Linked DNA regions of Homo sapiens. The protein of the gene in region 2 interacts with the protein of the main gene of each other region in a biochemical or structural test. Each region holds a gene or a part of one and is shown on either strand. Other genes may lie near its edges.

What was found.
Region 1: the proteins of HDAC3 (region 2) and HIF1A form a complex in vitro, tested with the Homo sapiens proteins (2 studies listed by BioGRID).
Region 3: the proteins of HDAC3 (region 2) and RUNX1 form a complex in vitro, tested with the Homo sapiens proteins (one study listed by BioGRID).
Region 4: the proteins of HDAC3 (region 2) and BRMS1 form a complex in vitro, tested with the Homo sapiens proteins (one study listed by BioGRID).
Region 5: the proteins of HDAC3 (region 2) and SYK form a complex in vitro, tested with the Homo sapiens proteins (one study listed by BioGRID).
Region 6: the proteins of HDAC3 (region 2) and MAPK11 form a complex in vitro, tested with the Homo sapiens proteins (one study listed by BioGRID).
Region 7: the proteins of HDAC3 (region 2) and RUNX2 form a complex in vitro, tested with the Homo sapiens proteins (one study listed by BioGRID).

The regions. Positions count from the first base shown.
Region 1 is NC_000014.9:61,739,578-61,744,067, forward strand, and holds part of HIF1A (hypoxia-inducible factor 1-alpha), read left to right. Parts: intron 1-927; coding exon 928-1,050; intron 1,051-1,177; coding exon 1,178-1,611; intron 1,612-4,490.
Region 2 is NC_000005.10:141,626,372-141,630,861, forward strand, and holds part of HDAC3 (histone deacetylase 3), read right to left. Parts: intron 3,755-4,490; coding exon 3,673-3,754; intron 3,546-3,672; coding exon 3,489-3,545; intron 3,369-3,488; coding exon 3,313-3,368; intron 2,936-3,312; coding exon 2,802-2,935; intron 2,269-2,801; coding exon 2,188-2,268; intron 1,842-2,187; exon of another isoform or gene 1,817-1,841; coding exon 1,743-1,816; intron 1,587-1,742; coding exon 1,522-1,586; intron 1-1,521. UniProt on the Homo sapiens protein: Histone deacetylase that catalyzes the deacetylation of lysine residues on the N-terminal part of the core histones (H2A, H2B, H3 and H4), and some other non-histone substrates.
Region 3 is NC_000021.9:34,790,803-34,795,292, forward strand, and holds part of RUNX1 (runt-related transcription factor 1), read right to left. Parts: intron 1,809-4,490; coding exon 1,333-1,808; 3' UTR 1-1,332.
Region 4 is NC_000011.10:66,338,960-66,342,582, forward strand, and holds part of BRMS1 (breast cancer metastasis-suppressor 1), read right to left. Parts: intron 3,283-3,623; 5' UTR 3,276-3,282; coding exon 3,137-3,275; intron 2,665-3,136; coding exon 2,574-2,664; intron 2,375-2,573; coding exon 2,247-2,374; intron 2,088-2,246; coding exon 2,008-2,087; intron 1,912-2,007; coding exon 1,815-1,911; intron 1,255-1,814; coding exon 1,162-1,254; intron 1-1,161. UniProt on the Homo sapiens protein: Transcriptional repressor. Down-regulates transcription activation by NF-kappa-B by promoting the deacetylation of RELA at 'Lys-310'. Promotes HDAC1 binding to promoter regions.
Region 5 is NC_000009.12:90,895,138-90,899,358, forward strand, and holds the end of SYK (tyrosine-protein kinase SYK), read left to right. Parts: intron 1-390; coding exon 391-463; 3' UTR 464-3,412; downstream 3,413-4,221. UniProt on the Homo sapiens protein: Non-receptor tyrosine kinase which mediates signal transduction downstream of a variety of transmembrane receptors including classical immunoreceptors like the B-cell receptor (BCR).
Region 6 is NC_000022.11:50,267,109-50,272,210, reverse strand, and holds the start of MAPK11 (mitogen-activated protein kinase 11), read left to right. Parts: upstream 1-1,830; 5' UTR 1,831-1,918; coding exon 1,919-2,034; intron 2,035-4,261; coding exon 4,262-4,391; intron 4,392-4,583; coding exon 4,584-4,642; intron 4,643-4,728; coding exon 4,729-4,840; intron 4,841-4,924; coding exon 4,925-4,954; intron 4,955-5,036; coding exon 5,037-5,084; intron 5,085-5,102. UniProt on the Homo sapiens protein: Serine/threonine kinase which acts as an essential component of the MAP kinase signal transduction pathway.
Region 7 is NC_000006.12:45,540,738-45,545,227, reverse strand, and holds part of RUNX2 (runt-related transcription factor 2), read right to left. Parts: intron 12-4,490; coding exon 1-11. UniProt on the Homo sapiens protein: Transcription factor involved in osteoblastic differentiation and skeletal morphogenesis. Essential for the maturation of osteoblasts and both intramembranous and endochondral ossification.

The DNA.
Region 1 (4,490 bases), on a different chromosome or scaffold from region 2:
ACCCAGAAAAAAAAATGTTTGATTCATCTTGGTTTTTATCTAACAAAAGTAAATCTAACAAAAACGTTAGAATGAGGAAAGCAAAATTTCTTGTTTAGAATACACAGCTATAGTTTTTTGTTAAACTTCTTGCCCAGAACTCTTAAAATAGTAATAATGTACATTCGTTCAGGTATATGCAGGTAAAATAACTTAGGTTTCTACTCCCACCCCCGACAGTAACAGTGAGATTTTTAGGTAGCTCAGTCACCACAGGAGTGTGCCTTCTCAGTTCAAAGGTAAATTCCAGTGAATGTAGCATCTAGTTAATTGGTCAATTAGGTACCATTGTGGGATGTGAATTACCAAATAGGTTTTATTCTTTAGAATAAGGTGTTTCTTTTCATCTCAATTTTGTAAATGATGTTATATTACATAGTCAGAAATATATATATTGGCAAAATTAGTTACCAGTATAAGCTTCAAAATGTCACTATTTTCACAAATTTTTTTTTTTTTTTTTTTTTTTGACATGGAGTCTCACTCTGTCGCCAGGCTGGAGTGCAGTGGCATGATCTTGGCTCACTGCAACCTCTGCCTCCCAGGTTCAAGTGATTCTCCTGCCTCAGCCTCCTGAGTAGCTGGGATTACAGGCGTTTGCCACCATGCCTAGCTAATTTTTGTATTTTTAGTAGAGACGAGGTTTCACCATGTTGGCCAGGATGGTCTCGATCTCTTGACCTCATTATCCCTCCACCTTGGCTTCCCAAAGTGCTGGGATTACAGGCGTGAGCCACTGAGCCCGGCCTAGTTAAATAAAATTTGATAAACACGATGGACTTGGTTGTGTGTTTTCTGGTTTTTCTGAGATCTAGTTTGAAAATTCTGACAACTAGCAAAGTATATGGAAGCTTCTTCAGGAAATAGTAAACATATTTCTTTTTACAGCCTAATAGTCCCAGTGAATATTGTTTTTATGTGGATAGTGATATGGTCAATGAATTCAAGTTGGAATTGGTAGAAAAACTTTTTGCTGAAGACACAGAAGCAAAGAACCCATTTTCTACTCAGGTATATGAACTTATTTGTTTTATATTAAATTTCATTAATTTTTAGTCTGAAGTGACTTTGAGTTTCACTTGTTTTTTATTTATAAGGTGTGGCCATTGTAAAAACTCATGTATTTGCTGTTTTAAAGGACACAGATTTAGACTTGGAGATGTTAGCTCCCTATATCCCAATGGATGATGACTTCCAGTTACGTTCCTTCGATCAGTTGTCACCATTAGAAAGCAGTTCCGCAAGCCCTGAAAGCGCAAGTCCTCAAAGCACAGTTACAGTATTCCAGCAGACTCAAATACAAGAACCTACTGCTAATGCCACCACTACCACTGCCACCACTGATGAATTAAAAACAGTGACAAAAGACCGTATGGAAGACATTAAAATATTGATTGCATCTCCATCTCCTACCCACATACATAAAGAAACTACTAGTGCCACATCATCACCATATAGAGATACTCAAAGTCGGACAGCCTCACCAAACAGAGCAGGAAAAGGAGTCATAGAACAGACAGAAAAATCTCATCCAAGAAGCCCTAACGTGTTATCTGTCGCTTTGAGTCAAAGGTATTTATATGTAACATTCAAGTTATAGTTCTTTTATTATTTTTGAGATAAATGTATGTGATAGTACATGATTTTTAAACTTATAGCAAACTTTCTGATATATATGCCCTAACGCAAATTCTTGAGAACTCAAAAAACTTTCTAAATTAACCTCATATATTTTTTCTTTTTCTTTCTTTTTTTTTTTTTTGAGACAGAGTCTCGCTTTGTCGCCCAGGCTGGAGTGCAATGGCATGGCACCATCTCAGCTCACGGCAACCTCTGCCTCCTGGGTGCAAGAGATTCTCCTGCCTCAGCCTCCCGAGTAGCTGGGATTACAGGCATGCACCACCACGCCCGGCTGATTTTTTTGGTATTTTTCATAGAGACAGGGTTTCTCCACGTTGGTCAGGCTGGTCTCAAACTCCCGACTTCAGGTGATCCGCCTGCCTCAGCCTCCGAAAGAGCTGGGATTACAGGTGTGAGCCACCATGCCCGCTCCTATTTTTTCTAAAATAATTATAAATTCTAAAATTACCTATCTAAATGGAGGAGGGTCTTCTGACACCTTTAAAATAAAATCCAGCTCAGTACTGTAAATGTGTTTACAGAACTTGTTTAAAGTTCTTACAGTTGTTTAAATCAGACTAGTTAACTACCCTCACTACTTAGATGCTTCCATTTCTTAGAGCTCTTTTTTAAGCTTATCTGAAGAAAAGCCCTTCCAATTTAAGGGTTATTTCCAATTGCACATTCCAAATTGAGCCTTCCATCTTCAGCATTCAATATAGATATTTACAGGCCCCTCTTTTAAAATTTTATTATAGTTAACTTGTATTAAAGTTGCTTTTATTTTTCATTACGTATTTGTAGAACATTAGCTATATATATATTGCAGGCTACATAGGTTTTCAAACTGTACAACAGGAATCTAAGCATGAATTGTTACTTCTATGGAGCTAGTTCAAACAAACATATGGACATGACCCAATTTTTAAGTTATACTTTCTGTATATAATTTGTAAGGGGATTTCACATATTTTAAGTTTGAGGCTATAGCTAGAAGAAATTAAGTTTTATCTAATAAGTGTGTGGAAAAGGGAAATGATTCCTTCTCTACTATGTCTAGACTAAGCCAGATATCAATAGCAATAGGAAAGAACCACTGTCGTAGCCAGAACACATAGCTTTTTTCCCTGCCTAACATTCCCACCTTGACCTAGAGTGCTGGGAGAGGTCTTTTCCCTAAGCTTGGAAAAGACATTGGGGCTTTAGATGAACTCAGAAGTACTTTACATTACTTTATTTACTGTGTCACTTACTCACTTTTGACTCTGAGCTCCACGAGGGCAATCACAGTGTCTTGGGCATTTTAGTGATACTAATACTTAGCTCATGACCTAATGTGTAGTACTTCCTCAATAAATGGTTGTTGAGGCAGGGCGCAGTGGCTCATCACTGTAATCTCAGCACTTTGGGAGGCTGAAGCGGGTGGATCACCTGAGGCCAAGAGTTTCAGACCAGCCTGGCCAACATGGTGAAACCCGGTCTACTAAAAATGCAAAAATTAGCTGGGCGTGGTGGCACGTGCCTGTAATCCCAGCTACTTTGGGAGGTTGAGGCAGGAGAATTGCTTGAACCCTGGAGGTGGAGGCTGCAGTGAGCCGAGATCGTGCCATTGCACTCCAGCCTGGGCGAGAAGAGTGAAACTCGGTTTCAAAAAAAAAAAAAAAAAAAAAAGTTGTTGGACTGACAGATGCATGAATACAGTAGTAAAAATGACAATCACTTATAAGTTACAGTTTACTATCAGCTACAGAGGATGGGATATCCAGTTTTCTGAACAACTGTTCTCTTGTACTTGTCAAAGCCAAAGTGTAACAACACATCAAGTCACTTTAGCAATTTATTTTTGAGACGGAGTTTTGCTCTTGTTGCCCAGGCTGGAGTGCAATGGCGTGATCTCGGATCTTGGCTCACCGCAACTGCCGCCTCGCTGGTTCAAGCAAATCTCGTGCCTCAGCCTCCCGAGTAGCTGGGATTACAGGCATGCACCACCACACCCAGCTAATTTTGTATTTTTAGTAGAGACAGTGTTTCTCCAGGTTGATCAGGCTGGTCTCAAACTCCCGACCTCAGGTGATCCACCTGCCTCAGCCTCCCAAAGTGCTGGGATGACAGTTGTGAGCCACTGTGCCCAGCTAGCAACTGTTTTTAAACATTAGTTCCAATGTAGTGTACACTGAAAACTTTTATGAAAGGAATTTCAAAAATTAAGATAAACCATTAAAAACGTAATTACTAAGTACTACTACTACTACAATGATATTTACATAATAGACTGAGTTACATTTCATAAAGACAATATATCTGTATAAGAATTTTTAAACTTCCCTGTCTATATAATAGAAGTTTTAGAGAAATTTTTTAAAAACCAAAGAAAACTGCAAAATAAGATCACTTACCTATTTGGCATTCTCAACTGTCTGGAACAGCAAGGAGCCATTATGATTATGCATTTGGTTTGTGGGGTGTCTTGAAAAGTCAAAATAATGTAACAAAGCTGATGTACTTTACTCATTAGAACAATTCTTCACAATTTAATATTAATTTTAGATATACATAGTTCATGTTTGATAACCAGATCAATACTGAGTGAAAAATAGCATAGTGGGAAGAGCAGGGGAGGGGAGGTAGGGATCTGGAGACCTAGAGTGTACTTCCATATTGCAACTAGTGAGCAGTAGGACTTTGAGAAAGTTACCCAATAGGCCTCAGGGTTCTAATTTATAAAATGGGTATGATATGCCTGCCTTATCTGTCTTGGGAACTTAAGTAAGGTTAAAATGAACTAATGAACTTGAAATGTTTTATAAACTGAAAATGCTATACGAATGTGA
Region 2 (4,490 bases):
AAACTATAAATGTTCTAAATCTTTATCTTGATAGTGAAATTCATTATGTTATACCCTTAAGATTTGGGTATACTTTATATGCTGTGTCTCAATAAAAATTTTAAAATAAAGCACAGTCCCCCCTCTGTTCTGCTCAACACCCTCCCTGGCACCCTGCCTGCTAATCAACTATTCTCATCAACCCAAGTTCTGTCAATTCTAGCCTTGAAAATATAACTCACGCCCGGCGCGGTGCTCACGCCTTTGTAGTAGTCCCAGCTACTCAGGAGGCTGAGGCAGGAGAAATGCTTGAACCCAGGAGGCAGAGCTTGCACTGAGCCAAGATCGTGCCACTGCACTCCAGCCTGGGTGACAGAGCAAGACTCCATCTCAAAAAAGAAAAAAAAAAACATATATATGTGTGTGTGTGTGTGTATATATATATATATACACACACACACACACACACCTCTCAGATCATCTACTTCTCTCCATTGCCACCCCCTCCACCTTAGTCTGGGCACCTAACCAACACCATGGCTTCCTAACTGGTCTTTCTACTTCCATCTCCATCCCCCCTACCCAAACCTTTCTCTATTCAGCAGTCAGAATTGTCACTTTCAAACACAAATTGGATCATGTCACTTTCCTGCTTAAAATCCTTCAATGGTTTCCCATCATCTTTGGAATATAATTCAAACTCCTTACCAGGGTTTAAAGGCTCTGCACAATCTCACCATGGCCAGCTTCTCGGACCTCACCTCAACAGACTGAAGTCCAGTGGCACAATCATAGTTCACTGTAACCTCAAACTCCTAGGCTCAAGTGATCCTCCTGCCTCAGCTTCCTGAGTAGCTAGGACTATAGGCATGCACCATCATGCCCAGCTGATTTTGTTTTTTATTTTCTGTAGAGATGGCTCTCACTATGTTGCCCAGGCTGGCCTCAAACTCCTAGCCTCAGGCGATTCTCCCACCTTGGCCTCTGGAAGTGTTGGGATTATAGGTGTGTGCCACTGGGCCCAGCCCTCAGAGCCTTTTGTGGGCCTTTGTCCATGCTTGGGTCAGGCTTCTCTCTGCTCCTCTTATGACTCACTCCTTCTTAGTCTCCAGGTCTCAACTCAAATTTTACTTCCTCAGAAAAACTTTCCGAAACCATGCTATCTCAAGTAGGTCCCCCATTGTATCCTGTGTCTCAGCTTTCTTTTTTTCTTTCACAGAATTTATAAGAATCTATTTATTTCATTTGATTATTTATTTTTTGTCTGTTTCCTAAACTGTAAACTCCATGGGAGACTCCTTATTCCATCCCCATGATGTGGTATGATGCCTGGAACATAACAGGTGCTTAATAAAAATATATCGTGAATGAATGACCATCTAGGGAACCCTGTTCAAGATGACATTTCTAGTTCAAGTACAATTTGTAGCTATTTTTGATTTCCAAGAAGAGGTGAGGCCCATTCCCCAACTACCCCCACCCACGTACTGAAGTCCAAGGCCACTTAAAAACCTTGGGGAGAAGAAGGAGAGCAAGTCTCACCCATGCCCTCGGATGCTGAGGTTAAAGCAGCCCAATCGATCACAGCCCAGAGAGTCAGCTCCACACTGCAAAAAGCAAAACCCCAGGAAAGTGCAGTGATCAGAACTGATCAGAACATCACAGATACCCCTTCCACCACCAACCTAAAGAACCTCCTCTTCCCTTGCTCTCTTTCCCCAAGCCCAGGCAGAACACTCCTGAGGAGGAACTGACAGTATTACCTGGAGCACAATGCACGTGGGTTGGTAGAAGTCCACTACCTGGTTGATAACCGGCTGGAAAAGGTGCTTGTAACCTGGGAGAGGGCCAAAGATGGGCACCTGGCACCCCAAGGGGATGGGGAGACAGGGAACAAAAGGAAAAAGGGGGTTGAGCGAGCATGTAGCCCAGGAAAGGGGCCACCCAAAAGAATCAAATCACTGGTCTGAAACTTCTGGAAGGGATCCCAGACTGCTATGAGTGACTGATGAAAGCCAATGACTTTTCCCAGAAAAATGCACATACACATGATATGTTGCATACAATTTCCAGAGATTCATGGTCCCTCTGAAGGCCATTCATCCTTAAGGACAACTGGCCCAACAGCAGACAATACCAGGCAGAAGAGGTTATTTCAAGGAGAAAAAGAAGGGGCCTAGGGAACAGAGGGAAGACTTCGGTACTTACTCTGGTCATCAATGCCATCCCGCAGGGGCACGTTCAGACAGTAGTAGCGGCCACTCTCTGCCCCGACTTCATACATGTCACCTGTAGGGAAGTGGGTGGTGGTAGCCACACATGGGAAGCACCCACAACCCAGCTGTTTCAGCCCCAATCTGCACTCTGGGAGCCTCTCATTCCATCTATGTAGCTTCACCATAAACTCCCTAGAGCCACTAAATCTCTTGCAGCTTGCATTCATTGGGCAAATAGTTTTGGGGGATCCACTCTGAGCCAACTGTGTACTAGGCAGTAGGGATGCAGCAACGAATGGAACTAATGAAATTTACGATATCCCACCACGCTTATATTCTTAGGGAATAGCCATGAGGAGGAGGGAGGCAGTAAACAAAACAAAACAAAAAACCACAATAAACACAAATAGCAGTGAGTGTTCTGAGGGAAACAATGAGGCTGATGTAACAGAGGAATGGGGAAGGAGGTGATTATGATAACTGGAGTGGTAAGGAAAGGCTTCTCTGAGGAGGGGACACCTGAGATGAGACTAGAAGGCTGAGAAGGAGGCACTCATAGTAAAGAGCTGAAGGGTGCAAAGGGGAAAGTAATCCCTATTCCCATACCTGTGCCAGGGAAGAAGTAATTTCCGTATTTGTGGAAGGACACCGTCATGACCCGGTCAGTGAGGTAGAAAGCTTCTTGAACCCCGTCACCATGGTGGATGTCAATGTCAATGTAGAGCACCCGAGGGTGGTACCTAGAGGGAAGCCAAAGCCAGGGTCTGAGCTAGAAGTGAACCCCCCAACCCACTCCTCTCAAACACCGGGTCTCGAATTGTGAAGAGTCTGCTTCTGCCCTGGTCACCTGAAACTTAATGTCACCAGTTCCCTAAAGGCAACTGGGGGCTCCAGCCTAGAGGCTAGAGGCAGGGACAGGAGAGGGATATGCAGAGAAGGCTGAAATGTGAGCAGGCAGTAGGGAATCTGCAGCAGTGGAAGAGGCAGCCTGAATAAAGCATCAAGAACTTGGGAGAAGCTAATCAGGGAGGAGGGAGGTCAAGGTCAGGGTTGAGACTGAGAGACCTCCTCAGCCAAGAATCCCGTAACTGCCCCCATCTCCTCCTGGGCTACTTACTTGAGCAGCTCCAGGATGCCAATCACAATGTCGTTGACATAGCAGAAGCCAGAGGCCTATGGCAAGACAGTGGTCTCATAAAGAGAAGAGCAATTCCCCTCCCAGCTGCCCCCCACCATCATCCTAAACACCTACCCTAGGATGGCCACTGTCTTTCCCATCACCTCCTCACTCACCTCAAACTTCTTGGCATGGTGCAGACCACCAGCCCAGTTAATGGCAATATCACAGATCTGAAAGACAAACACCTAAGTCACAGTCCTTCCTGCCCACCCCTCAAGCTGGGAGCCCAGGATCAGGGTTAAATCCCGAGTCCAGGGATCCAGAGGAAAGGAAGAACAGGACTCGGGACTATGTCACCTTGTTGTTCAGCTGGGTTGCTCCTTGCAGAGATGCGCCTGTGTAACGCGAGCAGAACTCAAAGAGCCCGGGAAACACTGGGCTGCAGGGAAGAGGAACAAGTTGGAACCCTCCTGCCTCTGTCTGGGCCCTTCCCATATCTCCCTCCCCATCCTAGATTCCTCCAATCTCCATTTTTCAAGAACCTTCTCTCCCTCTCCTACACACGTGGGCTATCTGCAAATTTATTCAACAAATATTTTGGACCAAACCATGTACCAAGCCCTGTGCAAGGCACTGGATGGGAAGTAAAGAAGCACTTAACTGTCAGGGAGTTTGTATCCTAGCTGCGGAAAGAAGCAAGCAGCTTCCAGGTACTCAAGTACAATGTAAAAAGGAAATCAGTTGAAAGAAAACATGAGCTCTGTTTTTCTTAGTCTTCTCAGTGTAACAAATTTTAGCATAATGTTCAATAATATTTTTCAGTCACATATTTTAAAGAAAGAACTGTATACCTACATATGTGAAACAGTGATGAGATAACCCACGAAAAGCCTGTAGCACAGTATACAGTATCCGCTCAGCCTTTAATAAATGTCAGCTATAATTATTACCATTGTTATTCTTTATAAAAAGTAAAGGCTTGAAGCCAGACACAAAAGCCTACTTACTGTATGACTCCATTTATGTAACATTCTGGAAAAGGTAAAATACAAGGACAGACATCTTATCAGTAGTTGGCTGGATCTAGGTTGCAGAGAAGTTATTAACTACAAAAGGGTGAGTGACCTTTGTTGGGTAGTGGAAATTTCCTGTACCTTGATACCTTTTTTTTTTTT
Region 3 (4,490 bases), on a different chromosome or scaffold from region 2:
TGCTATAATCGTAACCCCTAAATTCATTGATTTGGTTCCTATGTAAATGTGGCTCCCCTACACAGTTTACTTTGGCTGTGTTCTGTTACACAGCATCTGTGAAATTATCAGATGACCTTGGGGTGAGCAAATCCCTGGGCAGAAATCAAATCCTCTCCAAAGATGTAATTATTGGCACCTGCCTCAACCCTCTGGAACTAGATTGACCTTCTCTGTTTTAAGGAGGAAGTTAGATATGAGACCCTTGTTGAGCCTGGCAGAAAATTCCATACTTCTGATCCTTGGAGTGACCCTCAGTGTCTAAAAATCCTATTAAAAACGTTGCTGCGTGAGCTACTCACTTGTTTGATTAACATGAAAGGGAGTTTAATGTAAACAATACTTCTGGATAACCAAGCGATCACATTACTCATTCTTTTTTTCTAGCCTTCTTCAATGTGATACATTTAACTTTGGCTACTATCAAGAACAAAAGAAAATGTAGTACTTGATATTTTTCTTAATATAAGTACATTTAAATAATTAAAAAATTATCAACACATAAATGTCTGAACATCAAGATACATAAATATCTGGGGATTCCTTGTGGGAATACAGTAGTTAAAAATGACCCAAAGCTGTAGCTGTTTCTCAAAAAAACAAAACAAAACAAAAAAAAACAACTACCCAAAAGTCCAAAAGAAAAGTTAAATAAAACTTAAAGAAAAGGGAATCATATTTCTTTCCATGGTCAAAGCAAGAAAGAAGCAAGCTCAATTTATATATATTTATATAAACGTATATAAAAATAAAAACCACCCAAATGCAAATACGCATTTTGCAATTGATAAGGTGCGGAAAAATTAAAAATAAGAATTAGATGCCAAACAGGGCGAGTTGCATCCCTCCTCTCCCCCCACCCCAACCAAAATTCCACACTCTTTGGAATAAACAACTTGGTTAAAAAGTTAAGTCAAGGGTATAAAATCTTTCTTTTTATTCACAGCATTGCTAAATCAGAAGCATTCACAGTTTCCCTCCGGGAATCTTCCTGTTTGCTTTCCAGCGCGTCCCCTGGGTGCTGGGGCCGGCGGACACCCTCGAGGTGCGTCGCCTCGGACACCTCCGCGAGGGCCGGGGCGCCAGCAGACGGCGGCGGCGTGGGCTTCTGGGCGCAGGAGGCTGCGCGGGCCTGACCTACAGCGAGATCCTGGCCGTCGGGCGCCCTCGGCCCCAGGACGGTGGCCGGGCCCAGGGCCCGGGATCCCGGCGGGCTTGTCGCGAACAGGAGGCCCGCGCGCCCGGAGGCGAAGGCGGCGGCCCGCGGGGCCCAGCCGGGCCAGGCCTGGCGCCTCAGTAGGGCCTCCACACGGCCTCCTCCAGGCGCGCGGAGGGCGCCATGTTGGTGGGGGAGTTGCTGTGGCTGCCCTCGGCCTCCACCACGTCGCTCTGGTTCGGGAGGCTGGGGTTGAGCAGCGCGGAGCCGGTGGAGGCGTTGGTGCAGGGCGGCAGGATGCGCGGCGGCGAGCGCTCGCCGCCCACCATGGAGAACTGGTAGGAGCCGGCCGAGGCGCCGTAGTACAGGTGGTAGGAGGGCGAGCTGGCTTGGAACGGGCCTCCCTGCGCTTGCGACGAGCCGGGGTAGGGCGGCGGCAGGTAGGTGTGGTAGCGCGTGGCCGAGCCCATGGCCGACATGCCGATGCCGATGCCCGAGGTGACCGGCGTCGGGGAGTAGGTGAAGGCGCCTGGATAGTGCATGCGGGGGTCGGAGATGGAGGGCAGCGCGGGGAACTGGCGCGGGTCGCTGAACGCTGTCAGGTCGGGTGCCGCTGCAGGGCGGGCAAGAGAACGGAGCGGAAGTGAGTAGGAGGTTGCGGAGGCCACAGCTCTTCCCTCTGCCCCAGGGGGCTACCCAGGATGATACCGCCTAGGAGGATGGGAAGCCACCCAGGATGCTACTGCTGGGGAGGACGGGGACCACCCGGGATGCTACTCCCAAGAGGACGAGGATTACCCAGGATGCTATACCCAGGGGGACAGGGACCACCCAGGATGCCACCTCCTGAGATGACGAGGATCACCCAGCATGTCACCTCCCAAGAGGATGGGGACTACCCATGATGCTATGCCCAGGAGGTCGGGGACCACTCAGGATGCCACCTCCTGAGAGGACGGAGACCACCCAGGATGACACCACCTGGGAGGATGGAGACCACCCAGGATGCTACCGCCTAGGAGGACGGGGGACACCCAGGATGCTACTGTCCAGGGAGATGGGTTTCTATCAGAATTTACCGCCCAGGAAGATTGGAACCACACAGGATTGCTACCACCTGGGAGGATGGGGGCTACTGAGGATGCTGCTGCCTAGGGAGAGGGTTTCTACCCAGAATCTGCCACCCAAAAAGATGAGGTCACCCAGGATGCTATGCCCAGGAGGACGGGGATCAGGAGGCTGCTACTGCCCAGGAGGATGGTATAATATACAGTAATATAATACGGTAATATAGAATATCATGTAATGTAATATGACATGATATATGAAATGATGTAGTATAGCATAATATGTATAGTATAGATATAATGTGCAATAGTATATACTATAATATGTATAACGTATATAAAATGTTGATATAATCCTAGGGTTGGCAAACTGCAGCCTGCCAGCCAAATCTGGCATTTTTGCATGTCCCAGGAGGTAAGAATGCATTTTACATTTTTTAAATGGTTGAAAAAAAAATCCAAAAAAGAATACTTCCTGACCTGTTAAAATGACAGGAAATTCAAACTTCAGTGTCCATCCATACTTCGGAACACATCCTCACTCATTCTTTCATGTACTGCCTGTGGTTGCTTTAGAGCCACTACTGTAAAGTCAGGTGGTCAGTATAGGGACTGCAGGAGCCACAGAGCAAATATTTATTCTTTTTTTTTTTTTTGGAGACAAAGTCTCGCTCTGTCACCAAGGCTGGAGTGCAGTGGTGTGATCTCGGCTCACTGCACCCACCACCTCCTGGGCTCAAGCAATTCTACTGCCTCAGCCTCCCGAGTAGCTGGGATTACAGGCGCCCGCCACCAGGCCTGGCCAATTTTTGTATTTTTAGTGGAGATGAGATTTCACCACGTTGGCTAGGCAGGTCTCGAATTCCTGACCTCAAGTGATCCACCTGCCTCAGCCTCCCAAAGTGCTGGGATTACAGGCATGAACCACCGTGCCCAGCCCTAAAATATTTATTCTCTGGCCCCTTACAGAAAAAAGTTTGCTGACCCTCTATTTGATCAATATATTAATATACCAATAATATAAATTAATCTGTGATATTAATATAGCAGATGATAATTTGACACTAATGTAAAGGATGCACAAATATGTTACTACTAACACAATATGTTATACATAATATATATCCTAACAATATTAATATATAATAATACATTACACATAGTATTTAGGTTGAATGATAGAAAATTGCCATTTTTATAGGCCTTCGACAGTTGAAAAATTGATAATTTCCTAGTATTTAAGCGAATGCATGGCTCAGTAGCAACTGCTGAGCGAATGTCAGGGAATACCATTACCACTCCTCCTCTCCATATCTACTTTCATACTAGTTCCACAATTTTAGAAACAGTACTGCCTTGAGTTCACCTGGTATTCTCTATTATGCACTTCACTAGTTTGTTAACACAAGTAGATGTAGGACCTTGATTTATCTACTCTGTTTTTTGCACATGTGGAAATTTTACCAGAAATTGTAAAGCTTTGTCTCTAAAACTCACTTTGTTACGACTGTACATTATTTTGTTAGGATTATGGATTTACAGTTTCACCAACTGGCTTTAGGGCTGTCCTGTGGTTCACTGGCTCTCTCTGCATTTTTCTTACCTACAGGCCGCCCTTGGGAACTACGGAGGATTTGTGTATTAGGCAGGGTTCCCTATATCTGTAGATCAGAGTTTCTCAACTGTTGACACTGTTGACATTTTGGGCCAGATCATGATTTGCTGGGGTGGAGGGGGCTGTCTCGTTCATCGTAGGATGTGTGGCAGCATCTCTGCTTTACCCATTAGGTGTTAGTAGCATCGCCCGCCCCTCTTGTGACAACTCAGAATGTCTCCAGACATTGCCAGATATCCTGCGGGTGGGGTGACGGAAGCAAAGTCACCCCAGCTGAGAACCACCACTGCAGATGTAGAAGGGCACCCTGGAGAAGTTCAGGTTCCTTAGAATTATTCATTAAATGACCAGGCTAGGACTCTCCTCTTTATATCAGCAAATCCACAGACAGCAACAAACAGTAGAAACATGAATTCATTGTTTTAAAATGTGAAGTTCTCAGATCAACACACAAAATAACTCTTAAGCTCAGATGGCATGTGGCCTGTGTCCTTTTGAGTTCAGGCTGATAGAGAAAGTCGACAGAGCCAAAAGCTTGCTCTGAAAGGAAAGCTACCAAGGTGGATTAATCTGTTTTTGGAAGGCAGCGGCAGTTGATCAACTTCCTCATATT
Region 4 (3,623 bases), on a different chromosome or scaffold from region 2:
TGGAACCAAGTCTATGGAGGACACCAAATGTTGTTCCCTGTCCCTTGCTCACCCTCACCTCGTCTTAGGTCAGCTGGCTGAGGCCCATCCCATCTCACTCTGCAGCACTGGCCCTAACCTGGCCCCTTCCCTGATCCAAAGACAGACGCAGGGCTTATCCCTTCAGAGACAACTCTCCCTCCCCCAGTGCTCCCTACTTGATGTCTCCATGCCTTCACCTTCCATTCACTCAAGTCATGGCCTTCCAGATTCCTCCCTCCCTGCCTGGGCCTGCTCTCCAGCACCAGGTTGCCATAATGACTAAGACTGGCTGCTGCAGGAATACCCTCAGGGGTGCAGGAGGACTCAGCTCTGCCAGGACAGATGAAAGCACAGCAGGCCCTGGACTAAGCTTAAGCTAGCCCTGCCTAGGAAGGGGTGGAGGCAGCCAGTGCCCTCTGGGATGTGGGTACCCCATGGTAGGGCACAGAAGCACACAGGAAAGTGAAGCCATAGGCACCAGGGTAAGACCAGAAGAGGCCTCACAGAGGAGGTAACGTTTGAGATGAGCCCTGGACAGTCGGGACAGGCAGGACTTCCAAGAGGAGGGTGGGATATGAGCAAAGGCTCCCCAGGGAAAGCTGGGGACCCGCTCGGACAACCCCGGGAGATGGAAAGGCCTCAAAGGCCAAACCTCACTCAGGCTCAAGTGCAGTGGCACCATCACGGCTCACTGCAGCCTTGATCTCTCAGGCTCAAGCAATCCTCTTACCTCAGCCTTCAGAGTAGCTGGGACTATAGGTGCACACCACCACGCCTGGCTAATTTTTGTTATTTTTTCTAGAGATGGGTTTCACCATGTTGCCCAAGCTGGTCTCGAAAAGAACTCCTGGGCCCGAGCAATCTACCCGCCTTGGCCTCCCAAAGTGCTGGGACTGTAGATGTGAGCCACGGAGCCCAGCCCGTTTCTGTTTTCCTAGGGTTCACATAGCCCAGAGAGACCCAGGACCCCGTAAGAAACTGCTGACAGCTGGATTTGCCTGGACATATTCACATGACACCAAGCAACCACGAGTGCATCTAGTGTGACTGTCCTCCATGTCCCCTCCAACCCCCTCCCCTGGGTCTGGAGTTGACCCTTACATCCTGCCCACTTTTAGGCCACCTTGGGTGAAAGGATACCAGAAACCAGAGGTGCCTTCTTCCTCTTGCTGGGCGGCAGGGAGTCCCAAGACCTGGAGCTGCCTCTGGCGTGCAGTTTGTCATCCCACCATTCTGCCCCGAGACCCAGAGTTAGAATTGGGGTGCTGGCCCACAGGATACTCCCTTTTCTGTAGCCTCTGCCTCCACCATGGGCCGGCCTGGCCTCATCTCCCCTGTCCCATCACCACCCTGGGCTTGGGGTAGAAGCCCCTTAGGGCTGTTCAGGTCCTGCCTGCACAGCTGCACAACCCTGGGAAGAGGTCACTGCACTTCTGTGAGCCTCATCTGTTTAGTGGAGAGTGGGATGACGACAATTCCTGCCACCCCAGGACTCCACGTGAACACAGGTACTATGAACATGGAGGGGACTAGAGCTATTGCATGTGACTGCATGTCACACTGATACCTGTTTTGGAAAGAGCAGGGGCAGAAGAGGCAGGGAGACCCACTCTGCTTGAGCCCCCATTATGTGCCAGGCCCTTTCCAGGCCTGGTCTCCTTCAGCCCTCACACTGACCCCAACAGGCAGGTCCTCTGGCTGTCCCCTTGACTTCAGGACATCTGAAGCCCAAAGAGGGGTGGGCGTGGACTGAGCGGGGCCCAGTTCCGGGGTGCCCAGGCTCTCGCGCTTACCAGAGCTGAGGTCCAGGCTCTGGCGGTCCTCCTCCAGCCTCTGGATCCGCTCCTGCAGCTCCCCCTGCAGCGTGTCATAGAGCAGCAGCTTCTCACTCTGGAAGAGGGGGCAATAGCTCAGCAGGACGGATGGGGTGAGGCCACTTCAGGCTTTGTGCCCTGCCTCACCCCCAGTGTGCCCAATCAGGCCCACCTCCAGGTGCTGTTTGGCTCCCTGCAGCTCACATTCGTACTTATTCCTGATCACATCCAGACAGAAGCCCTTGTAGATCCCTGCAGAGAAAGGGAGGAGGGTCCCTGCTTGGCTGGGGAGCCCGGTGCCCACATAGGAGGGCTGAGAGCAAAGGGCAAGGCCGGGCAGGAACGAGAGAGGAAGGGGACAGGGTGCCACGGGTTCTGGGAGGGGAAGAGGGTACAGAACCACCCACAGACCTGCCACCTGAATGCGAATCTTGAGGCTCCGCTGCAGCCCCCCAAGGGGCTCCGTGTATTCAGGGGCTCTCTCAGCCCCCACTTCCTCCAGCCGCAACCGCAGCTGACTCAGTCGTTCCCTGAACAACCTGCGTGGTAAAAAGGCAGCCGTGCACCCATTTGCTCACCCATCGCTCTTGGGCAAACACATACCCAGCACCCATTCCACAGCAAGCCCGGTGTTAGGCGCGCACTTCCTGGGCACCAACCACGCCTGCCCAGTACCAGGCCCACCACCTCCTCATCCCAGATCCTCGCAGACCCAGCCCAAGGTGTCCCCACGCTCACTTCTCCTTTAGCTCCGAGAACTGCTTCTCTAGGTCCAGCATCTCACTGACACACTCGCTGCGGCGTCGCTCATAGTCCTCATCATCCATCTCTGGGACAAGAGGCCAGTAAGGGCTAGCTCTGGGGAGGAGTGGTGGGTACCCGCATGTGTGCATGTGCGTCCTGCATGTGTGTGTGTGCATGCATGCCTGTGTGTAGGGCCTGTGTGTGTGTGCGCGTACATGCTTGTGTGAAGGGGCTGTGTGTGTGCGTGTGTGCTTGTGTGTAGGGGCTGTGTGTGCATATGCGTGCGTGCTTGTGTGAAGGGGCTGTGTGCACGTGTACTTGTGTGAAGGGGCTGTGTGTGTGCATACGTGCTTGTGTGTAGGGGCTGTGTGTGCGTGCTTGTGTGTAGGGGCTGTGTGTGCGTGTGTGCGCTTGTGTGCAGGGTCTGTGTATGTGCTTGTGTGTAGGCGCTGTATGTGCATGTGCGTGCATGCTTGTGTGTAGGGGCTGTGTGTGTGCATGTGTGTGTGTAGGGGCTCTGTGTGTGTGTGTGTGTGTCTGTGTGTGTAGGGGCTCACCGGAGCTCTCCTCTTCTGACTCTGTCTGGCTGCCGCTCCGCTCCTCCTCACTCTCTTCCTCCTCCCCATTCATCTCAGCAGCAGAATCACCCTCTGCTTCCATCTCTTCTGTGTCTTTGCTTGGAGGCTGGACAGGCATCTGGACTCTGGGAGAAGGAATGGAGCTATCACTTATGGCTGCCCACAGCTCAGAGGGGGAAAGAGGCAGCAGGATGCTGAACACAACTCGATCCCAGATGGGGAAAGCCAGGGAAGTAACTGGCCTGGCCACACCTTGAGCACAAACTGGGTGACAAGGGTGCAAATGGCCATCTGCACCTCTCACAGAAGGCTGGGAGCTGTGGAACTGCTCCTGCTCTTGGATGTCACTGGTGATCCTAATCCTAGCAATACTGGCCAAGGCTGTGATCCACAGAAAGGAAAGGCCCAGGGGGCACTCTCCACTGCCTTTGCAACTGGACCTAAATTTCTTTTCTTCTTATTATTT
Region 5 (4,221 bases), on a different chromosome or scaffold from region 2:
CACCTGTTTTGCTAAAATCACAGAGTGACAGCCTCTTCGTGTTGCCTGTGGCACAGAAGCATATTGTGTGCCGCATATCTGAACCTGGGGCTAAAACACTCCCAGTTCTAATGCAAAAAGTCTCCTACTTTAGGGTGGACATGAATCACCGGGAGGTCTTGTTAAAGTGCAGATATGGGTTATTTAGGTCTACAGTAGGCCGACACTATTTTTGACAGCCTTGTGGTCACCCTGGGGTGGGGGGCACAGGGACCACGCTGTGAGCTGCAGGCCCTAGAGTTAGCCACCAGGGAGCAGCACCACTGGTACTCAGCCTGCAGAGGCCCTGCTTGTGATCAGCAATTTTTCACAAGCACATTGACAAACAAGAATGCATCTCTTCCATTCCAGTGTGGAAAACAGGCCCGGATTCGCAGCAGTGGAACTGCGGCTGCGCAATTACTACTATGACGTGGTGAACTAACCGCTCCCGCACCTGTCGGTGGCTGCCTTTGATCACAGGAGCAATCACAGGAAAATGTATCCAGAGGAATTGATTGTCAGCCACCTCCCTCTGCCAGTCGGGAGAGCCAGGCTTGGATGGAACATGCCCACAACTTGTCACCCAAAGCCTGTCCCAGGACTCACCCTCCACAAAGCAAAGGCAGTCCCGGGAGAAAAGACGGATGGCAGGATCCAAGGGGCTAGCTGGATTTGTTTGTTTTCTTGTCTGTGTGATTTTCATACAGGTTATTTTTACGATCTGTTTCCAAATCCCTTTCATGTCTTTCCACTTCTCTGGGTCCCGGGGTGCATTTGTTACTCATCGGGCCCAGGGACATTGCAGAGTGGCCTAGAGCACTCTCACCCCAAGCGGCCTTTTCCAAATGCCCAAGGATGCCTTAGCATGTGACTCCTGAAGGGAAGGCAAAGGCAGAGGAATTTGGCTGCTTCTACGGCCATGAGACTGATCCCTGGCCACTGAAAAGCTTTCCTGACAATAAAAATGTTTTGAGGCTTTAAAAAGAAAATCAAGTTTGACCAGTGCAGTTTCTAAGCATGTAGCCAGTTAAGGAAAGAAAGAAAGAAAAAAAAAAAAGGCCTGGATACTGCTTTTGCTGTCTCTGTTATGAGATGGAAGACTTACATGTTTGTGATAAAAGGGGACCATGAGAATGAATTGGCTTGGCTTACTTTCCCCCTGAAATCCTCTCTCCTGCAGACTGTCTTGAAGACCTGGTGACTGGTAAATAAAGCCCTGCATGGAGGCTGCACAGCAGGGGCAAGAGGCCCATCCCCCAGCATCTCACTGAGGACAGCTTCAGGCTGCCTTCCTCTGAACGTGGTCCACACCTTCCTCTCCTCCACAGAGAGGGTGCCGCCAGAATCCCCTGTCGCTTTCTGTGTCTGCAATGGGGGGCAGCACAGGGATCAAAGCCATCTAAAGAGTTTCCAAAGAAAGTATTAATTCAGAACAAGCCAAAGACCCTGAGCCTCACCACAAACAGGCCTTTTGGAGTGTGAATTTGAGTTGAAGATACAAGATCGGAGAATGATTTTCTGGTCTTAACTAATCCTCATCTTCATGTTTGATCTTTAAGAAGTCATCACCCATTGATTTCAGTTTTGCTGTACCTCTTGAAAGTTAAAGAGACATCTCAGCACTTTAGGAGGCCGAGGCGGGTGGATCACTTGAGGTAAGGAGTTTGAGACTAGCCTGGCCAATATGGTAAAACCCCATCTCTACTAAAAATACAAAAATTAGCCGGGCATGGTGGCATGTGTCTGTAGTCCCAGCTACTCGGGAGGCTGAGGCAGGAGAATCGCTTGAACCCAGGAAACGGAGGTCGCAGTGAGCCAAGATCATGCCACTGCACTCCAGCTTGGGCATCACAGCGAGACTCTGTCAAAACAAACAAACAAAAAAACAACTTAAAGAGGTAATTTAGCCATCATTCTTATGCCAGCAGATATAAATAAACTTGGACCCATCTGGTCTTCAGCTAAACCTGAGACATTTTAAAGTGCATGGACAGCCATGGACAGCAGGCCCTCCTCTAACAGGGGATGCAAGGCATGGAGAAAGACAATCAGTACCCAAGCTCAGCCACAGAAGACAGGAGTCACTCATATAACTTGTGTTTAGAAGTTTTTGGTAGCCACGCACACTTTCTGAAATCACACTATCTGGTGGTTTAATCATATTTTTAAAGACAGAATCCCTGAGTGCTGAGCAGATTCTCAAAACACATTTAGAATCCCTGAAATTAGAAAGATCAATGACAAAATATCTGTCAGCCAGGCCACAAACAGGTGTAAAATTATGAAAGGAGTGGTTGGATGTGCCAAGTTTGGTAAAGTGGTGACTGCATCTGAGAAAGAGGCTGTGAGGCTGAACTCTTGGTGGCTTCCTTCTGTAACTTCCAGAGGGAGTCTTCAACACAGGCCCCGTGCTCGTAGGAATACGGTAGCACCTATGTAGGAAGTGCGTGGAGTTTTCTGTCTTCTTTCTGTGTGATTTTTGGCCTTTTTATCAGCACTTCTCCCCTCCCAGGAGCCTGGGGATGCCAAACATCCAGAATGTGATGGGACAAGATGGGGGCAGGGGCCTCACCTCCCTGCAGAGGTCCGGCCAGGTCTCCTTGTCCCTGGACAATCTCCTGAGCCTCTCTGCTTGGTGGAGCAGGCACCTGTGTGCAGAATTCCCACTGTGGCCAGCACGAGGAAGTCTTTTCTAGTGAAAATGTGTCTTGTGGTCAGGAATAATTATCCTTTCCCCTGTAGCCACCAAGGAGGGCAAATAGAGAAAGGTAACCTAATTGAAGGATTGGTCATGTGAAAAGGGCTACATTTGGGAAGCTGGGAAAGGCCTCCAGGCTTCTAGAGCAGCTAGCTTGGGCTGGATTCTCATACCCAGGCTGCCCCTTGGATTGTTCTACCCAAGCTTTTCCCTGGGGTCTGGGCTCACTCCATAAGGTAAGGTGCCTTTTACCTTATGGTCCTTCTTTAGCAGGTAACAAAGGAGCATCAGGGGCAGGCTGCCCTGGTGGCATCACACTGGCTAGTGAGGCCGTGAATATCTTGTCCCCCAGCAGGGCCGACAGTTTCTATCACAGAAAACAGTGTGTTCAGTGGTGAAAATCGTTGCATGCATGTTTTCATCTGAGCGTGTCCTTCTCCCATACTCCCTATCAGCCAGCCCTGCCTGTAGCTGCTGTATGGTGATTGCACTTGGACATCAGTCCAATGACTGCAAGTCGGCCTGGATTTTCACTTGCAGAGGCTACAGCTGCATTGTCAGGTCTCCCAGCCCTGCAGAGAGCTCCCTCCACTGGTTAGCAGTGTGTTGTGTTTTCCATTCATTTCAGAAGAGCTACATTGTGTCACTGGACATTTTTAAAAACTGTGATTTTTAATAAAAATTTAAAATTTGCTTTGTGATGATTTTCATGGAAGTTATTAGGATGTGGTAAGTCACACTGTCAAATAGTGTCAAGCAGCATTGTCAAAGGGGTAGCTAAATGTTTTCTAAAACATTAAGTCCCTGCCATGTCCCAAAAAAGTGAATGTGTTGGCCGGGTGCAGTGGCTCATGCCTGTAATCCCAGCAGTTTGGGAGCCCAAGGCAGGAGGATCTCTTGAGCCCAGAGTTTGAGACCAGCCTGGACAACATAGTAAGACTTTAGCTCTGCAGAAATCAAAACATTAGCCGGGTGTGGTGGTATGCACCTGTAGTCCCAGCTACTTGGGAGGCTGGGGCAGGAAGATTGCTTGAGCCTGGGAGGTCGAGGCTGAAATGAGCTGTGATGGCACCACTGCACTCCCAGCTGGGTGACAGAGCAAGATCCTATCTCAAAAAAAAAAGTGGATGTGCACAGGTCAAAGTTGACTGTGAGATTCCACCACACAGAACGGCGGGGAGGCCCATCAGGGAGGGCCCTGTCCTGCCCTGCCTCTATCTTTTATTCATGAGCAGAGCATCTACCCAGCCAGGGCCTGACAGCCCATGGCCTGCCTAATAAAAGACAGACTGAGGAGACCCAGAAATCCCCCATCAGGCCAAAGCAGGGCTGTGGGTTTTGAGCTATCCCTTTCTCTATGAAGACAGCCTAAAAGGAACTGCGGTAGGCAAAGAAAGGATTCCAGAGCCCCAATTTCTGCCTGTTCTAAGGAGGTTACACACATGCGCAGACATGCACACATATACATCCACATGCACACATGCATTCACACATGCACAGAA
Region 6 (5,102 bases), on a different chromosome or scaffold from region 2:
GGCCCTGACGCCACCCGAAACTCCTCAGTGATCACTCCCTTGCAGTGCCACGACCCCACACTGTCCCCAGTAGGCACATGGGCGGGACCTCTAATGCCTGGGCAGGCAGGGGGTTCCCGGGGCAGGTCAGCTCAGTGATGAGAGGGGCCCGTTTCCACCGCCCCCCGCCCCCACCCCCACCCCACACGCCCGCCTGACCTGCTGAGCGGCCGGGGCCTGCAGCGAGGCCGCGAGGATTGCGGGCGGACGCCTGGGGGAAGCCTGACACCTCCCCACCTCCATGTCCCCCACCCTAGGGGCGAGAACGGAGCCGCCCAGTCCACGGGGAGGCGCAGGGGCGGGGCCGGTCGCCATGGGAACCCGACTCCCGCCCCGCCCGGCCGCGGCGCAGACAAAGGCCGCTCCCCTCCCCCGGCGGCCGCGGCCGCGGTTCCCACAGCTCCGGGGCTGCGCTCCGGCCTCCTCCTCCTTTAGCTGAAGCTCCATTAACTCTGCACAAAACCTCGGCCCGCCTCGGCCGGGCCCAGTGAAAGGCGCTCCCGGGCGGGGGCCCTCGGGGAGGCTGCCCGTGTCCTCGCCCCAACCCAGCCCGAGCGAGGAGAGGGGCCATCCCCGGGCCCGCGCCAGGCCCCCAGCCGGATGCCGGCTTCCAATGGGGAAACTGAGGCACGGGGCTTGGTCATGCAAAAGGGGCCGGAGCGGCTGGGACTGAGACCCGTTCCTTCGCCGCGGTCCGCATGGGTCCGGTGGCCAGCACCGTGCTGGCTGTTTTAATTTGGTTGCCGATATATAAAAATCAGATTTGACATTAAAACTCGGATTTTAGTGTTTTAAAAAAGGAGTGTTTTGGGCCACTGGGATCCTGATTTCTCACTTCGCTGGAGGGGGTCGCCCAGCCGCGAAGCCTCCCACCACGGCTCTACCAGGGCGGAGGTCGGTGGCCGGTGTTCCAGGGAGCAATGCTCCGCCGAGCCCCGGTCGCTTTCAAGTGGGAATAAAAGTAGCTGTGCGGCCCCGAGCGCGGCAGAGACGCCGAGTGGGGCGCTGCCCCCGTCACCGCCAAGGCAGCCCCCCGCGCCTGCCCGCCCGCGGGGCTGACTTCAAGGACCCTGCACCCAAAGGCGGCTCCTCGGACCTGGGATAGTCAGGGTGGGCTTCCTAGAAGAGGTGGCCGCTAAGGAGGAGGAAAGGTTCTGGGCAGCAAAAAGGATCCGTTTGGGGCCGCTGCTTGTGGGTAGGAAGGCCCCGGGGTGACGCCGCTGTCCCTGGTCCTGACAGTCCAGCGGTCGCGCCTCTCTCAGAGGGGAGGTCAGGGCGAGCCGGGGCAGGAGGCCTGGAAGGTTCCCGGGGCGCACCGCGGACCAAGGCCTGCAGGTCCTGCGCAAGAAAGCCAGGCCGGCCCTGTCCCAACGCCTTTCGGCTTATTTTCCTATCCAGTGCCGAGTCTTTAGAAGGTGCTATTCATATTTCTGTCTTGAAAAATACTTCCCATGGTTTACCCCTGGCTTCTTCGCTTTTGACGGTTCTCCCTCGTTGGGGAGGGCGCCGCCGGGGTAGGGAAGCCCGGGCCGAGCCCAGACGCGGGCGCAAGTCTGGAGAAGCGCGCGGCCCCCAAGAGGTGAGAGCCGGAGGGAGGTGTCCGCCCTCGGCGCCCCCCCCGGGAAGGGGAGGGCTGGTTTCCGCTCTGCCACCGCCTCCGAGGCGCAGGAAGCAGCGCATTTGTCTCCGGGAACCCCCCCACGCCCCGGCCACCCAGCCCGGGAAATCCGCCCGGGCCTCCCGGCCCCGCCCCGGAGCCCCGCCCCGCCCGCCGCCGCCGCCGCCTCCGCCGCCCTCCGCTCCGCTCGGCTCGGGCTCGGCTCGGGCGCGGGCGCGGGGCGCGGGGCTGGGCCCGGGCGGAGCGGCGGCTGCTCCGGACATGTCGGGCCCTCGCGCCGGCTTCTACCGGCAGGAGCTGAACAAGACCGTGTGGGAGGTGCCGCAGCGGCTGCAGGGGCTGCGCCCGGTGGGCTCCGGCGCCTACGGCTCCGTCTGGTAGGGGCGGGGCAGAAGGGGTGCTGGGTGGGGGCCGGGCCGGGCCGGAGAGCGCGTCCCCTCCTCGCCCGCGCGAGGTTCTCGGCGTGGGGAGGGGCCTCGCCCTGCCTCCGCCCCCGGGCGCCAAGCGGATCTGAGGAATGAATGGGGGGGCGGGGGTGGCGGCGTAAAGAAACTTTCCAAGCAGACGCCGTTACCGGGAGGGAGGGGGGTCCTCCGGCCTCTCCCGATTCGGACTGCTCCCCACCAGGCCTGAGGCCTGGGAGGTCACAGCTGGCGTGAGGGTGGGTCTCACGCGACCGAGCCCCGAGCCACCCTGATGTCCGGGCCCCTAAACGTCTGAGCACCCACCTGAGATTCACTGAGTCGGGTCAGGCAGCCCCCCGGGGTCTAGCGGATGACCCTCCCCCGCCCGGGCTGGGGGCTATTGTCTGAAAAGGGAAGCCCCGCTCCCGGAAGCCAAGATCTCTCCCCCTGGGATGGCCTCAGACTCCCCCTCAGACCACAAACCCCACTTAGGCCCTGGGGCCAGAGGACCTGGCCTGGGGCCCAGGAAGACGACAGAGTCTGGGTGGGGGAGGGGGGTCAACTGGGCCAAGGTCTCTGTTAGACCCGGGTAGCCAGGGCTGGAGGGGCTTAGGGTGAGGTAGTTACCGGGAGTCCTAAGTTTCAGCCTCCATGTTGACTGGGAGGCTGATCATGGGTACAGGCTTTGAGAGGTGCAGCTGAGTCCTCACCATGGCCAATGCCGCTTAGCTGCTGCCCACTGGGGGGTCCTGGTGGGGCGCAAAGGCAGAGGCAGCCAGGGCAGAGCTCTGCCCCAGGCACTTGCAGGTTGGAAGTGGGACCTCTAGGCCCACCAGATTTGGAGCTCAGGAGCCGGCATCAGGGGCCGGGGGTCCCAGGGCAGGCTGTCTTCTGGTGTGGTCCCTAGCCTTCCATCAGAAGCTGTAGGTGGGTCATTCTAGCCATCATGCCAGCACAGATCTGTCTTCCTCTTTGAGACCTGAAGGGCAGGAAGAGGGTCTGGGACGGTGTGGGAGTGGCCATAGGGGACTAGGGTGGGTCATGGCTGGACTCGCCGTCTGGGAGTTGCTGAGAGGTGTCCGGTTCTCTGAGTGAGGCCTGGTCTCCCCCCTTGCACCCCTGGCCCATTTTCTTAGTTCCACTGCCAAGGCTGCGGGCCAGGTGCCAATTCCCTGTCACCTGACCGCACAGATGCAATTGGCCAAAAGAACTTGCTGCCCCACGTGCAGGGCCACTCCCCTCACCACCTCAGGAGCACCTTTCCCTGGTCATAGGCTGGGAGCATGGCTGCCCCAGGCACCTCGACCTGCGCCCATGAGCATCCCAGACCCAGCAGGAGCCGCTCCTGCTCCCCTTGTGTGGGCATGGGGGGTGGCCTCAGCCTCCACTTGCTCTGAGACAGGATCCCAAGAGACAGAAGTGGGAGGGAGAGAAGAAGCAAGTATCAGCCAGAGGGAACAGGCTGTGCAAAGGCCTTTCCTTTAGCAGGGCTGAGGGCAGTGGGACATGGGAGGGTGGGATGAGGGTCACCTGCAAAGGGAGGGTGGGCTCAGGAAGCTGGTGCAGGGTAGAGGGTCTGGACCTCTGGGAAGTGGGGCTGGGCGAAGGGCTGTTCTGTGGGTCCAGCTGACGCCCTCAGCTGTACATCACCTTCTGTCCCGGTTTTGTTCCAAATAATGATGCAATAAACACCTCTGACCAACTTTCCCTCCGTATTTTGAACATTCGGAGGCACCAGGGGTCCAGGGGCTTTGAGGTGGCTCTAGAATCCCCCTCTGTGAGCCTCCTGGGCCCATGGGGTCTATGGGGCAGAGGGAGGCCCGTCTGCTGCAGGTGAATGCCAGTGACTGTTTTCCTGCTGTGTTTTTCCACGCTGGATGGGGCACCTCTCCCCCAGCCTTGCTTTGAATGGGGGCCCCTGGTTGAGCGTGGGAATCAGTGGGGCCAGGGGACAGAGAAGGTCCAGGACCTTGTGGGGTGAACACACGCATGGTGGTCCAGCCCCAGGGGCTCCTTCCCAGCAAGCGCGGAGTGGGTAGGCCCGAGGGTGGGAGGCCGAGCTGGGGCGGCGGGGCCGGGGCAGAAAAGCCCCACGGCCCCATCCCCACGGAGAAGCGGCGAGAGGGACGCCGCCCGGGTCCACGCGCGTGCGGCCGCCCTCGGACCCCTCCCGGCGCCGCCTCACTCGCCCGCCTTCCAGTTCGGCCTACGACGCCCGGCTGCGCCAGAAGGTGGCGGTGAAGAAGCTGTCGCGCCCCTTCCAGTCGCTGATCCACGCGCGCAGAACGTACCGGGAGCTGCGGCTGCTCAAGCACCTGAAGCACGAGAACGTGAGCCGGGGGAGGGCCGTGGGGGGAGGGCGCGTGCGGGGGCGGGGCCGCGGCGCAGCCAATAGGCGGGCGAGCCCTGGCGATGGGGGCGGGGACACAGGGGGCGCGGCCTGGCACTGGGGGCGTGGCCCGGGGGGAGCTGAACGACAGCCGGGGGTTCGTCGCCCGGCCCTGACGCCCCCCGCCACCTAGGTCATCGGGCTTCTGGACGTCTTCACGCCGGCCACGTCCATCGAGGACTTCAGCGAAGTGTGAGCGGCGGGGCGGGCGAGGCAGCGGGGAGCGCGTTCGCGGTGGGGCGGTGGGGCCCTGTCCTGACCCCCTGACCCCGCCCCAGGTACTTGGTGACCACCCTGATGGGCGCCGACCTGAACAACATCGTCAAGTGCCAGGCGCTGAGCGACGAGCACGTTCAATTCCTGGTTTACCAGCTGCTGCGCGGGCTGAAGGTGGGGCGCCCTGGGCTTCGCGGGTCCTCTCGCAGGGGGGCGGGCGGGCCGGGCCCGGCGCTCACCACAATCCCCCTCCCGCAGTACATCCACTCGGCCGGGATCATCCACCGGGTAGGTGCGACCGCAGGGTGAGGGTCGGGTCCAGCAGGGCTCCGTCCCAGCCTCCTGTGCTCACGCTCCGCGTGACCTGCAGGACCTGAAGCCCAGCAACGTGGCTGTGAACGAGGACTGTGAGCTCAGGGTGAGGCCCGTGGGCAGG
Region 7 (4,490 bases), on a different chromosome or scaffold from region 2:
AGTGTCATCATCTGTAAAATGAGGGGGATGAGCTCTAAGTTCCCTTCCAGCTCTAATGTTCTATGACTATGAATTCCAAGAGAGAAGGAGAAGCAACAGCCTTAGGGGAGGGGTAGACAGAGAGGTTCCCATCCCTCATTAGTATTTCCCAGAGTCTGCAGGCCCATAAGCAGAGGGTAAAAGCTAGTGAGCAGCTTCTAAGGCCAGAAGCAAACACTTTCAAGATGAAGAACCAAAACTGACAGCCCAGGCAGTCACTCTCTGCTTTTTATAAATTCTTCCATCCTCAACTAGCCTCTACCTATTCCTCCCAAAAACGAAATTCTGACAAGCTTAAATTTAAAAATGTGGAAACAGCGATTATGACAGAATCAGAAATGGGAGCAGATGCTCCATAACATTTCCCCCGCCCAGTGCTTGTGCCCTGCCTCGTACAATACAGAGGCCAAATGGAGGCCACAGACGTTCCTCAGGCAGCCTCTGCATTGCAGGGCATCCAGGTGACCTTGAGCTGGCAGAACTAACAGCGATGGGCAGGGCACTTCTGTATGCATTAAGTTCAATATTTAGATCATATAAGAAGAACCAGAATAATGTGAACAGCGTGTATCAGAAAGAAGTCGCACTTAAAACGCCAACGTGTGCCCCCTGCAGAAGTATGGAGTTCACACAGATAGACATGTTAATGTAAAAACTGCTTCTTAGGTGTATCTGTACTTAAAATACACTGCAGTAATAATTACAATTCCGTATGGTTTCACTTATTTTGATGCAGAAGCCTCATTAAAACTCTTTATGTGGGGCCCTGGCAGTAAACTCCAATATGGTTTTGAATTTACCCCTCCCCACTCCTTCCTCTCAATTTTACCTGATACATTTTGCTGATGTTTTTATTGCCCATCACATGCCAGGATCACTGTACCTTTTTGGTTTATAGATGCTAGCTAACACAAAATGACATTTGTTTTTCAATTAATGAGCTCTGGTTATGGTTTATAGAAAACAATGCAACAAATTTCCGCTAGGTTTACAGTATTTTAACCAATCACTTCTAGGCATTTGAGTCTTAATGTCTTGAGAATGGACTCTTTCTTGATAAAGAGCGCTAATGTTGACTTGAAAGGGATTATAGGATGATTTTTCAACTTACAAACAATAGAATTTTCTGGAATTTGCTTAGTCACTTTATGTTACCAAGAAATGTTCCTGAAACATTTTGCAACATGTTCTCTAGGAAGAAATAGTAACAATTTGCTCTAGTACCATACGAGATCCCTTATAAAATAATCATGATAAGGTGGTGGGAGAAATCCTAAACTTAAAAGAAAGACTATAAACTCCTTCCTAATCTTCAAATTTTTAAATAATAATAGTTACAGAAGCAAATAATATCCTTAAATTTTCTTTCATTGAATAAGGTTGTGTCTGTGCTTCCAATGTCTGTTTTGTACATGAACTCAGGTTTTCTTTTAGAACCCCTGCTTGGGCTATTTTGACATTGTATCCTAAACTAGTCATCCTTGTGTCACCAACCACATTGTAGCCACAAACTTACCAACATAGAACTAACTGGATGTTACATCAACTAAAGTAAGCAAAATATAAGTTTGACTTATTAAGAGTCCATATTATGAAGGCCTAGAGTTCTAAAAGCAGTGCAACCCCAATCTGATTTTCTAAATATAAAACCAAAGCTCAGCCACTCCCCCAGTGATATGCCTGGTACGCTCAGAGCTCCCAAGAGCCAGTTTAAAACTCATGACTACAACTTACTGGATAGATAAAGCCAAAGGTGGTTTGGGGACCTTTTTAAAATAGCAAGGAACAACTTGCACAAGTCCATTCTTTTTGCTGTTATCCATGTTATCTCCTCCATATACAAAGTACATTCGGCTATTAGGCTTTGCTGAACAGTGGAGAAGTTGAGAGTGCTATAGCCAACACTAGATCACTTGGTGCGAAGAGTTTCAAAATGGTATGTGCCTACATCTTCCTGGGGGACTGCCAGGAGTTACTAGAAGCCCAAGATAATCATCGTGCATTTTCCTGATGGGTTGGTTTTACTCAACTTGGGGAAAATAATACACTATACAATAAACATGAATATGATGTGGAGGAGAGTGCAACATTTATGTGAATTTTTAGATAAATAAAAAATGACTTCAACAAAATTTTGCTCTTGTAAAGCTTTAGGCTATGATCCGAGATCCCCCAAGGTACTCAAATACTCCTTTATGCTGGTTGAGGAACTCTGATGGAAAAGTCTAAACTCTTAATTTGCTGCTTAGGTAATGCAAATCTAACCCCTGTTTGACAAATAGGAAAGCTGGTATCTAGAGAAAAGAAGCCATTTACTCAATATCACAAAATCACAGCCACAGCTAGACAGACCTCTTTGACTTCTAACAAAGGATATGCTATCTTAGTTACCCTTAAGGAATTTGGTTAACATGATCACAGGTCTATCTACATACACATACACACCTGCTATCTTAGAAGTTGATTTGCCTAAATGAAAAATACTCAAAATATCTCAAAATACTTAAATTGACTCTTCTACTGCCTAAGTGTTGCCCCAGTGAGAGTTCCTATCTTTGGGATATTATTAATAACTCTTTTAGGCCTTGTTGATCTAATCTGCTAAATAATGGGCAATTAGTTTGGTTGCTCAGGGCAACATGTGAATGAGACCAAGGTCAAGGGTATGATCCCCTTAGGACCTGCTGGCTTCCTACAGATGCATTTCATTCCAAAACTGCTGTCTACACCCCTAGCCAAAGCCAAACAGCTTGCAAACAAATGTAGCTGTCATAAAAAGAGCTGCAAGAACTTTGCTCATTAAAATAGTAACAGCAGCGGCAGCAGCAATTTTTCACAACCTAATATACACAGGAAAGAATATATTAATAACATTTCCATGGAGCACAAATAAAAATAAAATCACTAATAAAAATTAAAACATCTTGCCCCTCCTCCCAAGGTCTATGAGGGAAAAGGAAATAGCCTCTCTTTACCCAACTAGGTTTCTTGGGTCTTCAAGTGGAAAGTGTGTGAAACCAAGATAAGAGGGAATCAAACAGAATGTCTGATCTTCAATTTTCAGGGCCGGGAATCCTCCCTGTGGCATCTTTCACACACTGTTTTCGAATGCTGCTTATCCTGAGTCACGTTTGGCTCCCACTGAGAGTGAGCTGTGGAGGGTAGAGAAGTGTCTGATACTTCTTTGCCTCCCCTTCAGAACTTCATAACAGTCACACCTGTTTGACATTTGAAGGCCTTTACTTTAACATACATTTTCTCATTGACTAGGCCCCCAATAAATATGGTTGGTTGACGGAAAATGGGTAAGGAGATCTCTAGAACAAAAAAGAAATTGGAATTTGACCAAAATAACAGACCGGGTACTTGCCATTGGGGCTGTCAGCTGGGAAACCCCATGCCCCATGTCCTCTTGGCCTCTGTGCAGTACATTCACACATCCCAGCAGAGCAGGCAGGTCAGGGCAGAAAAAAGGAAGGGGGGCCTTGAATCCAGACTGAACATATGCTGGCATATTCAGAGTCCTCTGCCCACTTTATGTGAGGGGATAAAGGTACAGAATGAAAAGCCATTGTACTTCTCAGCAATGAGGTGTTAACTTCAAAGCTTCATTGGGGCCTTTTAAATGGTAGGAGTTATTGCTTCAACAAATCTCAAATAAATCCGAAGGACGTTTTATTAACCCCTCTCAGAGTTCTTTCTATTGGAACATGTAATACACAAGACCTATGTGGAGCTGCTCTCCCCTGGTAACCAAGAATCTTCTCCCCCTTTTAAACGTTTTGGCTGCCCCCTTCCCAACAGCTCTATTATTTAATTTCCTATTTTACTTCCGTTCCAATAGCATTTATTTTCTATATCACTCTTTTGGACCCTTACTCACTCCCTTATTGAATTATTAGCTGTTTCTTAGTCTGTTTTCTCCAACTATAAAGTCAGCTTTGGATGGTAAAGAATATGTTTTCCTCTCATATCCCTCTTGGAACCTAGTACATTGTAAGAGGCTAAAATGAAAAAAAAAATGTCAGTGCATGGTTGGATGGATAAATGAATACGTAAATGAGTCTAAGGATTGGGAACTCTGTACAATAACTCTGTACAGTTTTAACACAAAAGGAAAAGATATGAAAAGCATTGAGCAATGCTGACATCAAACCTAAAATGTAATTCAAATACATTCCATACCTATAAAACCTTATACAACTCTCTTTAAAGAGCATTCAAAGCTATTCCCAAGCATTATTGCATCACTTGACCTCACATTGCAGACAGGAGCCCCCAAAACAGCAGTTGACACTAGTAAACGGATGCCTCTGCTTTGCTTCCACTGTTATTTCCTCTTCACTCCCAGCACCTGTCCTGCCTCCCAGCCAGTATCTGGGTGTAGATCCACACTAGGGAGCCCTGGGGAGACTAGATGAAGGGGAAAGAGGGCCAGGCCAGAAACCCAT